Regions from separate parts of the Homo sapiens genome. Here region 2 is linked to region 1. Evidence: fine-mapped expression QTL. A gene starts in region 1. The other region holds a variant in brackets. All regions are shown on one strand. Distances are from middle to middle. Region 1 holds the start of KCNK13 (potassium two pore domain channel subfamily K member 13). Region 2 overlaps KCNK13 (potassium two pore domain channel subfamily K member 13).

Region 1 (5,371 bases):
TTGTCAGAACTCACCTAATGATACACTTAAGATTTGTGCATTTCATTGTATGTAAATTTTATCCGAAAAGGAAAAAAATTCTGCAAGTAAATATTGAACCCTACGTAGTGATATGCAGGCAGAAGTACTGGGGATGAGGGCGGAAGTGTACCAAGCTCTGCAACTTACTCTGAAATGCATCCAAACAAGATGGGTTGATGGATGGACAGAGGGACGGGTAGATATCTAATAAATCAAGTATAGTAACATGTTAATTGTAGAATCTAGGTGGTGGGTATACGGGTGTTCACTGTAAAATTCAACTTTTTAGAATGTTTGAAATTTTTCATAATAAAATGGATTTAAAAGGTAATTGCAGTACTCACCCTGGGTGTATACACATGCACCCATTCTCGCGATGCCCCTAAAGCTCTTGCCCCTCAGAAGGCTAGATGAAAGAGGGGCATTGGGGAGTGAGTAACAGAGCCGAGAGGACTGCTAACAGCACCAGGGTTTCTGATGAAAATGCACTCGCCAGAGCTGTGTTTCTTTATTCGAAATCACACGGTTTTACTCAACAGGGCTCCTAGCCCTTCTGTCTCTGCTCCTGGTGCGTAAGGGCGGTGTGTGGGGCTCTGCGCCTGAAACCGCTCTCTCGGAAGGTGGGAAGATGCCCACGTATCCATTCCTCTCCGCGTACAGATTCGCTCCCACACGCCCGGGCGGGTGATTCCGGAGGGCCGCGCGGGGCTGTGTGCGCGGGCGGGGGCGGGATGTGTCTGGAGGGGGCAGAGCGCCCTCTCCCGGCCCCGGAGGGCCCACGCGGACCGGCTGAGCGTCCCACCAGCCGGTTCTGCATCCACTACCCAGATCTGCGCGCCCTGGTGGGAGCACCGCAGCCCCGGGTCGGCCCTTCGAACGCCGAGCGTCTACCCGCGGAGACCAGCGCAGGAGGCGGGCCCGCGCGCAAGGAGGCGGGCGACAGGGTGGAGTCGCCGCAGCTGGCAGCCGCACGGCTCTACCTGTTGCAGCGTCGGAGCGCGCCCGCCTGAGAAGGCAGAGCGCGGTGCGGACCTGTGCTCCGCGCGCCGGCTGGCAGGGCAGGGCCGCGGCTGCCAGGAGGCCCGGGAACAGTCCCGACGGAGCGGCGCGGAGAGGGCGCTCCCCGGAAGGTGAGATCTGAGCGCGGCAGCGGCGCCAGCGCCCGCTACAAGGCGGGGTCTCGGGGAGGGGGCCCCGGCGGTTTGCTGGAGAGCCTTGCTACTGTTCTGCATGAGGTGGGGGATGCCTTCTGCGCGGACCCCGCGTCCAGGCAAAACTCTGGAACGCACTAGGCAGCCAAGCCCGGGGGGAAGAGATGGAACGCTCCAAGGTCAAGGTCTCCTGGCCGCGGAGCCCTTCCAGCCCCCAGTGTTTGGCCTCCTCTCCGGAAGCGGGGCTGGCTCGCGGTGCGCGCTTGGTCCGGGCGGAGCCTACTAGTAGGCGCAGAGGACGCCCCCGCGCAGGATCCAGAGACCAAGGGCGCTCTGGCATGGTCAAGGCGAGGGAGGCTGCCCGGGGGAGAAGCCCCTAACTTCCTTTGCTCCCTGTTCCAACCTCCCTTTCTGGTCTCCTCTCTCCAGCCCGTCCGCCCAACGGATGCGCAGCGTTGGGGCCCGGCCGGAGGTCGGAGCCCTCGGACGCCGCAGCCCTCGGACGCCGCTCAGCACAGCCCCTCTCTCCGTGCGCCCGCCCTGGACCCCCTCCATCCCTAAGCCCCGGCAGCCGATTCGGAGACTCGGGAGGCCACAGGCTCAGCGCGACACCACGACCACAACTAGGAGGCACCATCGTCGATCTACCTGGGGAGGCACCTACAAAGCCAGCAGACTGACACCCGTGTCCTAGCCGTCGGCGGCCTGCGAAGCGATAGTCAAAGGAACCAGGACCCAGGACCCCGGCGCTCTGCTTACCCGCAGACCTCCGGACCGCGCCCCCCCCCCGCCGCCCCGCCCCGCCCCGCCCCGCCCCGCGACCGTCTCTTTGCGGGAAACTCGAGTTGGCTCGAGCTTGCCCTGAAGACGCGCCACGCCCCCTCCCCTATCTGAGCCGGACAGGGAGCCGGGGTGGAAACTGCGCCCGCATCCCAGCGCCAAGCAGACGTGAACTCTGCGCCCGTTCCCCGGGACCTTCAGCGTTAAGGAGAACTCCGAGGAGAGCAGGGGGAGTGGAGGGGAACGGCGGCGACAAAGCGGATTTGAAACTAGGAGTCAAGGAGGACGTGGGGAGCTGGCGCCACAGGAGCTACCGAGGCGGCGGCCGGGGGAGCCTCGCGGCCTGCGGGAGAGCCCGGCGGTCATGGGCGAGCCGGCGGTGGGGCGCCCGGGAGCTGGCTGAGCGCCGGGGCCCTTATTTCCCGGGGGTGTGGGCGAGACTCCGCCGACGCCCGGTGCCGTGGGCCTGGGGGCTGCCCCCGGGGGCCCGGCCATGGCTGGCCGGGGTTTCAGCTGGGGCCCGGGCCACCTGAACGAGGACAACGCGCGCTTTCTGCTGCTGGCCGCGCTCATCGTGCTCTACCTGCTGGGCGGCGCCGCCGTCTTCTCCGCGCTGGAGCTGGCGCACGAGCGCCAGGCCAAGCAGCGCTGGGAGGAGCGCCTGGCCAACTTCAGCCGCGGCCACAACCTGAGCCGCGACGAGCTGCGCGGCTTCCTCCGCCACTACGAGGAGGCCACTCGGGCCGGCATCCGCGTGGACAACGTCCGCCCGCGCTGGGACTTCACCGGCGCCTTCTACTTCGTGGGCACCGTCGTTTCCACCATAGGTAAGTGTGCTGGCCGGACTCGCTGACAACCTCCGGGCGGCCTCCACTTCCTCCGGGGGGCAGGACCGACCCTCTCATCCTTTCATTCATCCATCTGGGCGCCCAGCCAGACTCCACTGACATGAGCTGTCGCCTGATCAACAGGTGGTATTGCCTCCCCGCTGCTCTAATGTGGTCCAGGCACCGGCAGCTTCAGCGTCACCTGGCAGCTTGTTAGAAATGCAGTCTCAGTCCCCTCTGCAGACCTGCCGAGTCAGAATCTGCATGTTAACAAAGTCCCCAAAGGATTGGAATGATCCTTAAATTGGAGACGCTCTGCTCTGGGAGATTTTCAGTCTAATGAAGGAGACACGGCTTGAGTTCATGGGGAAGAAGGCTTTTACAGATAGGGACAGGAAACTAAACATTTACTGAGTCAGTCAGAGGGGAAGTGCAGATTTTAAAAGATTCTGCCCTCGACTTCACACTTACCGAGAAAAAATCAGAACAGCAGACTGAAAGTGAGGAAGCAAAAGTGCCAATGACGGTTCAAAAGATGGAAAATTTTCCACCAGGAAGAACCAGGGAAGTGACCTTTGGGCTGAATCAATTCGTGTTAGGCATAACTTGGGTTTGGGAACTGAAAGCGCGGTTGCACTCTAGAGTAGGAGAGAATCGCACTCAGGGGCCCCATGAGCTGGTTGGAGTGGTGGAAGGAAGACTAGGAAGGTCTGCTGGCTAATGGGATGGAGGCGGGGGTAGGACCTTCACTGACAGACTGAGGAGCTGGAATTTACCTAGAGGCACCTGGGAGCCATTGAGAATTTTTTAGCAAAGATGTAGCACAGCTACAATCAGCTGTGTTTATTTCCCAGCAGAAGGAAAATGATTTGGGGGAGTCTGCGCCACACCCCTAAAGATTGTTCATCCTTGAAGAATAATCAAGTGATTAATGGGGGTTAGGGAAGATGCTGTAGAAATAAATTCTGAGGGGGGCAAAAAGAGACCTGGAGCAGGGGAGGGAGGTTGGAAGAGTTAGACGGAGAGGAAGTGGCCTCCAAGCTGCAAAAAAGGCTGGCAGTTGCAAACAGCCCAGGGTGCATGTGCTGAGCGCTCTGTAGCTACTGCCCCTGTGCACTCTAGAAGAGCTCGCTGGTGAGGTGGGGCGACAAGTTGAGCCTCCTTGAGGCTCCCACACATGGCTGTGCTACATAGACATTCTGCCAGGAGAAGCAGCACAAAAGACAAAAGAGATTGGCTTCAGGTCAGATTCATCATGAAAGACTTCCCAGGGCTAGTCCAGGAATCCAGGGCTTCAGCTGATGCACAGGAGGCGAGGCAGAGGACCAGTATGATTAGGGACACACCGGCTGTATCTGAAGTGCCTGGCTCCCAGCCCCCATCCCATCCCAGATGGTGCGGCCCATCAGCAGGCCATGATGGCACCACCATAACTGGGTATCAGGCAGGAAACCTTGCAGCAGACCAGAATGGGCCCAAGATTGGTGAAGGAGGAATAACACCCCCATGGTTCTCCCCCTGAGCCCACACTATCTGCTGGACTCTTAGCCGTGTTCCACAAGCCCCTCCTCACATCACCTCCCACGTCCCAGAAGACAGTTCCAGAATCTCCACATAGGCAAGACTTGGGATGAACAAACTGATTAGGAGGTGTCACTTTGGAAGTGACCTTGACTCTACTGTGTTTGCATAGCAAGTACAGGATTTTTTTAGATTGAATGGTAACTTAGGGTGGTTTTGATGGGAGATTTGATGGCTGAATCTTTCCCACCACCATGAAAAACCATCTCTTGGTGCTCCCAGTGGGCACAGAGGCAGGAAGGAGCAGAGTGTGTGTGTGGACAGGTGCATCCATGTAGCAGGAACTGAGAGTGGCATGGGTAGGTGGCCATATAGGAACATGGGCTTTGGGGATACGAATATGACAATGTGGCATGGAGGAGTGGAAAGAAACCTGGACAAAGAGTCTGGAGTGGGAGCTTTTCATCCTGCCTCTGTATCTTGGGCAAGCCTCTTAACTATTCCGAGCCCCATCCTTTTCTCATCTGAGGCATCTACAGAGTGCCCACCTTGGTATCTGGCACATCAGCTATTTGGTGAATATTAGTCCTGCCCCCTGCTCCCTCCGTCTGCGTAAGCCTGCCCCTGTCACAGGGTTCTTGTGAGGGACAATGAGCTCTTGTAAGTGCGTGCGTGTTAAAAGGTAAAAAACATGATGTCAGTGTGGGCTGATTTTTATTTCTCATTTGTAACATTTCCTTTTAAATTGTTTCACTAATTGTTGTAATAACAGCACTGGCTAACCTTTATCAGGCCCGTATTAGGCACATACTGTATGATTATTATGTGAATGTGCAATGCAGCTCATTGCTGTGTGACATTCACACTTCATTTCAGCCAACACAACTCCATGAGGTAGGCATAACACTCCCCCGTTATAGATGAAAAAGCTGAAGGTTCAGGTTTTTTGTAAAATAAAGTATAAAGAAGAAAAAAATCAAGTTATATGCAGTAATATCATCCAAATTAACCACTGTTCATGTTTTGGTCCATTTTCTTCTGGTCTCCTTTTTCCTCTGCGTATACTTATAT
Region 2 (5,371 bases), 40 kb after region 1:
CATAATTTTTTCTTCCAGGGGAGGTAAAAAGCAGGGCAGACTGTCCCAAATTTGTGCTTATTTGGTTTTGACATACACACAAAACTCACATCTCCTTCCCTGATGGAGACTAAGAACCCAACTAACCACGCAGCTCTGGACTCTTCTGAAGCTGCTGTTCTGTTTGCACATTACCTAAGGCTCAGCTTGCTCCTGCCCTTCCCATCGCAAGCCAATATTAAATTAATTTGTATGTTCTGTGTTAGGAAGTACCGAGGGGCCAGAATAAAGTTTTTTGGAGTCGATCCCACTTTGGAGTTAATAGCATAGATAATCTACACTTGGATAATTAGGGTTTGGCCAGAGTAAAAAATAACTCAATGAAACTAAAAATATCTTCATTTAAGAACCTTGATGTAAACACGTGAGTCCATGTTTCCACCCAAGAAACTCTATAATAGGTGCCGTGGCTGCATTTTGGTGACCTATTTATCACTGGCCAAGTCTCAAACCTCAGCAATGCTGGCCCTAATGACATCTAAACTGGAAGCTGATTCTGCATGAAATTACGTTCAACAAGCTACTTTTTGGCTGGTACTGGTGACCTCGGGGATATAAGGCCTACTTCTGTTTGCTGGAGAGAACATTGCCTACCTAATAGAAGAGGAAGGCCTAATCAGTCCCAAGGATGTTAGGGAGGCCGCAAAGTGTGAAGCAGTGGATTGAACAAAGGAAAGCAGTAATTTCATCAGATTAGTAGTGGCTATTTTTATAACTTTGATTTGTCCATGTGAAACAGAGGAATGACTTCGAAAAATAGTCTGAAGACCTGCAACTTTTAAAATTGCATTTGCATCTCAGCACTAGGTTGGTTGGTTTTTCTTGGGACGGGGCCTTGCTTTGTCGCGCAGGCTGGAGTGCAGCGGTATGATCACATCTTACTGCAGCCTCCAACTCTTGGGCTCAGGTGATCCTCCCACCTCAGCCTCTCCAGCAGCTGGGACCACAGGTGTGTGCCCACCATGCCTGGCCAATTGTTTTATTTATTTGTAGAGACAGAGTTTCACTATGTTGCCCAGGCTGGTCTTGAACTCTAGGGCTCAAGCAATCCTCCCACCTCAGCCTCCCAAAGTGCTGGAGTTACAGGTGTGAGCCACCGTGCCTGGCCAGCACGAGATATTTGAGTCAAGCAGATGCTTCCACGTGCTTTGCAACTAAGGAGGTTGCAGTATATGATGGAATTATGTCATTCGAGGTACTTCAATCCCCTGTTCAGTTTCTCAGTCTGTAACATGGGCTGATAATAATCACACCTCAGAGTTGTTCTGAGGAGTAGACCAGGTGACGTAGGCAGGGTGTTTGGAACCATGTCTGCTTCACAGTGAGCACAAAATACTCACTGTTGCCCTTGTTGTTCAGTCTCTCTCTGAAATCGCTTCTGGCACCAAATGGGCAGGAGATTTGATTTCTCTGAAATCTTGATCTGAAGTCCCAGCACGTCTCCACTCATATCTTGTCCCGGACCAGAGTGTTGTCCTCGTATGGCAAAACCAATACTTAGACGAGGGGGCAGGGGCATCACATTCAGAAATTCTCCCATGGGGTGCAACGCAGGAGAGGGATACAAGACTACAAATTGGGTTCAGGGTATGCTGCTCTGGTGATGGGTGCACCAAAATCTCACCAGTTGGCCGGGTGTGGTGGTATAATCCCAGCACTTTGGTAGGCCCAGGCAGATGGATTGCCTGAGCTCAGGAGTTTGAAACCACCCTGCGCAACATGGTGAAACCCCATCTCTACTAAAATACAAAAAAATTAGCTAGGTGTGGTGGCGTGCTCCTGTAATCCCAGCTACTCGGGAGGCTGAGGCAGGAGAACTGCTTGAACCCAGGAGGTGGAGGTTGCAATGAGCTAAGATCGTACCACTGCACTCCAGCCTGGGCAACAGAGTGAGACTCCGTCTCCAAAAAAAAAAAAAAAAAAAAAACCTCACAAGTCACCGCTAAAGAACTTCCTCATGTAACCAAATACCACCTGTTCCCCCGAAAACCTATGGAAATATTTTCTTTTTTTTTTAAA[C/T]GGAGTTTTGCTCTCGTTGCCCAGGTTGGAGTGCAATGGCGCGAACTTGGCTCACTGCAACCTCTGCCTCCCAGGTTCAAGCGATTCTCCTGCCTCAGCCTCCCAAGTAGCTGGGATTACAGGCATGTGCTACCACACCCGGCTAATTTTATATTTTTAGTAGAGATGGGATTTCTCCATGTTGGCCAGGCTGGTCTCGAGCTCCCGACCTCAGGTGATCCACCTACCTTGGCCTCCCAAAGTGCTGGGATTATGGGCATGAGCCAACGTGCCCAGCCAGAAATAAAAAATTTTTAAAAAGAAATCCCCCCATTGAAATGGACTCCTTCAGATCTATACGGGCTCCAGGAATTCCCTTTAAGGCAGAATGTACAGCTGTGATGTAGAGCTGGTAACAACACCAGCCAGCATACAGAAAGCTCACTGGCTGCAGATTCAGTTCATAACTCTCCCATCAACTATAGTATCTTCATTAATTGATGTAAAATTGAAGCTTAGAAGAATCAAGTAAGAATCTTGCCTGTGCTGCAATGCTGGGTGGCAAAGGCAGGATTTGATCCCAGATGATTGGACTCTAGCACCCATCATCTCAATCCCTACCCTATGCAGCCACCTTCAGGATGTTGTCTTCTCTCCTGTTGCCTTCCTGGTTATTGGGAGTCAATGACACGGAGAGTAGAGTCTCTCCCATGACCCCCTATGAAATTCCTCCCATTATTCCTCATAGCCTTTGGGAAGTGCTTTTCCGCAGAGCTTCTCAGTCAGTATGGCTGTGCTGTCTCAGATGTTAACACTGACTTTCTGTCTCCCTGTGGGTTGCTGTCTTCCAGTTGAGTTGCCAAGCTTTCATCTGAGATATTAGACATTAGATTTGGGGGAATTTTAGTTCTGTTAACATTCTGGGATTTTTTTCCTCCAACTTTTATTTTAGATACAGGAGGTACATGTGCAGGTTTGTTACATGGGTGTATTGTACTCAGGTAATAAGCATTATACCCAGTAGGTAGTTTTTCAACCCATGCCTCCCTCCATCCCTGCTCTAGTAGTCTGCAGTATCTGTTATTCCCATGTTTATGTCTGTGGACGCTCAATGTTTAGCTCCCACTTATAAGTGAGAACATGCAGTATTTGGCTTTCTGTTCCTGTGTTATACACTTAGGATTATGACTGCCAGCTCCATCCACATTGCTGCAAAGGACATAATTTTGTCCTTTTTTAAGGCTGCATAATATTCCATGTTGTATATGTATAATACCACATTGTCTTAATCCAATCCACTGTTGATGGGCACCTAGGTTGATTCTATGTCTTTGTTATTGTGACTAGCAAGGTGAGGAACATACCAGTGCATTTATCTCTTTTGAAAAATGATCTGTTTTCCTTTGATATATACCTAGGAATAGGATTTCTGGATCAAACGGTAACTCTAAGTTCTTTGAGAAATCTCCAAACTGCTTTCCACAGTGGCCAAAATTACTTACATTCCCACCAATAGTGTACAAGTGTTCCCGTTTCTCTGCAGCCTCGCCAGCATCTGTGGGATTTTAAGGGCAATCTGAGTTATTTTATCTAGGACCTTTTCCCATGAAAAATAATGCAGGTATTTTTGGAGATTCAAACACACATAAAACTAGGGCATCCTGTCCACCCCAGGGAGACAGACAGGTTTTCTTTTCTTGGGGGACGGAGTTTCGCTCTTGTCAGCTGTAATGCAATGGCGTGATCTTAGCTCACTGCAACCTCCACCTCCCGAGTTCAAGCGATTCTCCTGCCTCAGCCTCCCGAGTAGCTGGGATTATAGGCTCCCACTACCTTCCCCGGCTAATTTTTGTATTTTTAGTAGAGACGGGGTTTCACCATGTTAACCAGGCTGGTCTCAAACCCGGGACCTTAGGTGATCTGCCTGCCTTGGCCTCCCAAAGTGCTGGGATTACAGGCGTGAGTCACTGCACCAGGCCCAGACAGTTTTTTGTTGTTGTTGTTTCTCTCTCTCTCCTGGACCAGAGAGATCTCTAAGTGTATCTCCTACCTCTAAAGACTTTGCCCTTTCAGCTTCCATTCTCAGCAGCTCAGTGAGACATGGGCCATACCCAGATGTATAAGATCAGTCTCTAGGCTTCCTGAAGACCCTGTCTTTCCTCTTCACATTCCTGTTGGGCAGGAGTCAACTTCTCTTGTCTCTTTTTCTCTCCTGATCTTACCCTTTTCTGAAAACTCACTCATCTCGCTCCTCTACTCAATTTTCCTTTGACATGAATTTTTCTCTTCTCAGCCGAGCCTCCTAATCTTGTTCTTCCTCAAGGACACCTTGGAATAAAAGCCTGGCATGTCCCTGAGTGCCTCCTCCTCCTGTGAATGCCTTTTGGCCCCTCCCTGCATTCTTGTTGGGTGTCAGGAACTGCGTGGTTTCTGGGCCTTCTCTCCAGACCCCTTTTCCCCTCCTAAAACAGTAACATCTTTGAAATCTATGATCATATAGGCCATTCTTTGATGAGTTTCTGGAAACCTCACTGAGAACACATTGTCTGGAGACCATTTTCTCTCTTGGCACAGCAGCACCCAGAAGGCAATAAGACACCTTGTCCCTGTCACACATACATTCCTATCTTTGGGGACTCTTGGGATTTGCTTGATAATAGTATCTTTTTTATGTCTTTGAAGGCTTTGTGTGATCACTTGATGAATCCTGCCAGAATTGTCTCACAAAGGTGATGTGCATTCTGTTTCTTTCCTGGGCCACATATCCTCCTGGGATGGTCAGATTAAGCCCAAGGGAGACGCCATCCTACCCAGGTTGGGCAAGGAAGGTGGAAGAGTCTCGGGGGTCCCTTTCCATATGAGGTGTCACTGTCTTGAACTTGGGGATCAGCTACTTTCTTTTCTTTTCTTTTTTTTTTTTTTTTTTGAGAGAGTCTCACACTGTCACCCAGGCTGGAGTGCAGTGGCACGATCTTGGCTCACTGCAACCTCTACCTCCCAGGTTCAAGCAATCCTCCTGCCTCAGCATCCCGAGTAGCTGGGATTACAGGCATGCACCACCATGCCTGGCTAATTTTTTGTTTTTCAGTAGAGATGGGGTTTCACCATGTTGGCCAGGCTGGTCTCAAACTCCTGACCTCCAGTGATCTTCACGCCTCAACCTCCCAAAGTGCTAGGATTACAGGCATGAGCCACCAGCCAGGATCAGCTACTTTCCAACTCCATTTTGCTACGTTAGGTAAATGGGTTACATAAATAGGGTGAGGTTGGGTCCATCCATCCATCCAAGGCATTCAGCAGCACCGTGTCTCTCATTCACGCTGGTCTCCTGTCT

The links. PIP is the estimated chance that this variant, and not a neighbour inherited with it, causes the effect. A credible set is the group of variants that fine-mapping cannot tell apart.
Region 2: its variant is the best candidate, but not a certain one, in a credible set for the expression of KCNK13 in whole blood (INTERVAL, PIP 0.79).

Annotation. Positions count from the first base shown.
Region 1 is chr14:90,059,761-90,065,131 of GRCh38, forward strand. It overlaps KCNK13 (potassium two pore domain channel subfamily K member 13), which reads left to right and starts at 2,234. Exons shown (of 2, transcript NM_022054.4): 1 at 2,234-2,779. The coding sequence starts at 2,446. It overlaps LOC124903406, which reads left to right. Exons shown (of 3, transcript XM_047432048.1): 2 at 642-1,151; 3 at 1,602-1,973. The coding sequence ends at 1,866. RefSeq lists a silencer at 537-926 and enhancers at 1,175-1,676, 1,677-2,176.
Region 2 is chr14:90,099,847-90,105,217 of GRCh38, forward strand. The region is part of intron 1 of KCNK13 (potassium two pore domain channel subfamily K member 13); the gene reads left to right. Among named protein-coding and RNA genes, the nearest start is that of KCNK13, 41 kb to the left of the region's middle. The variant C/T (reference allele first, on the strand shown) is at 2,059.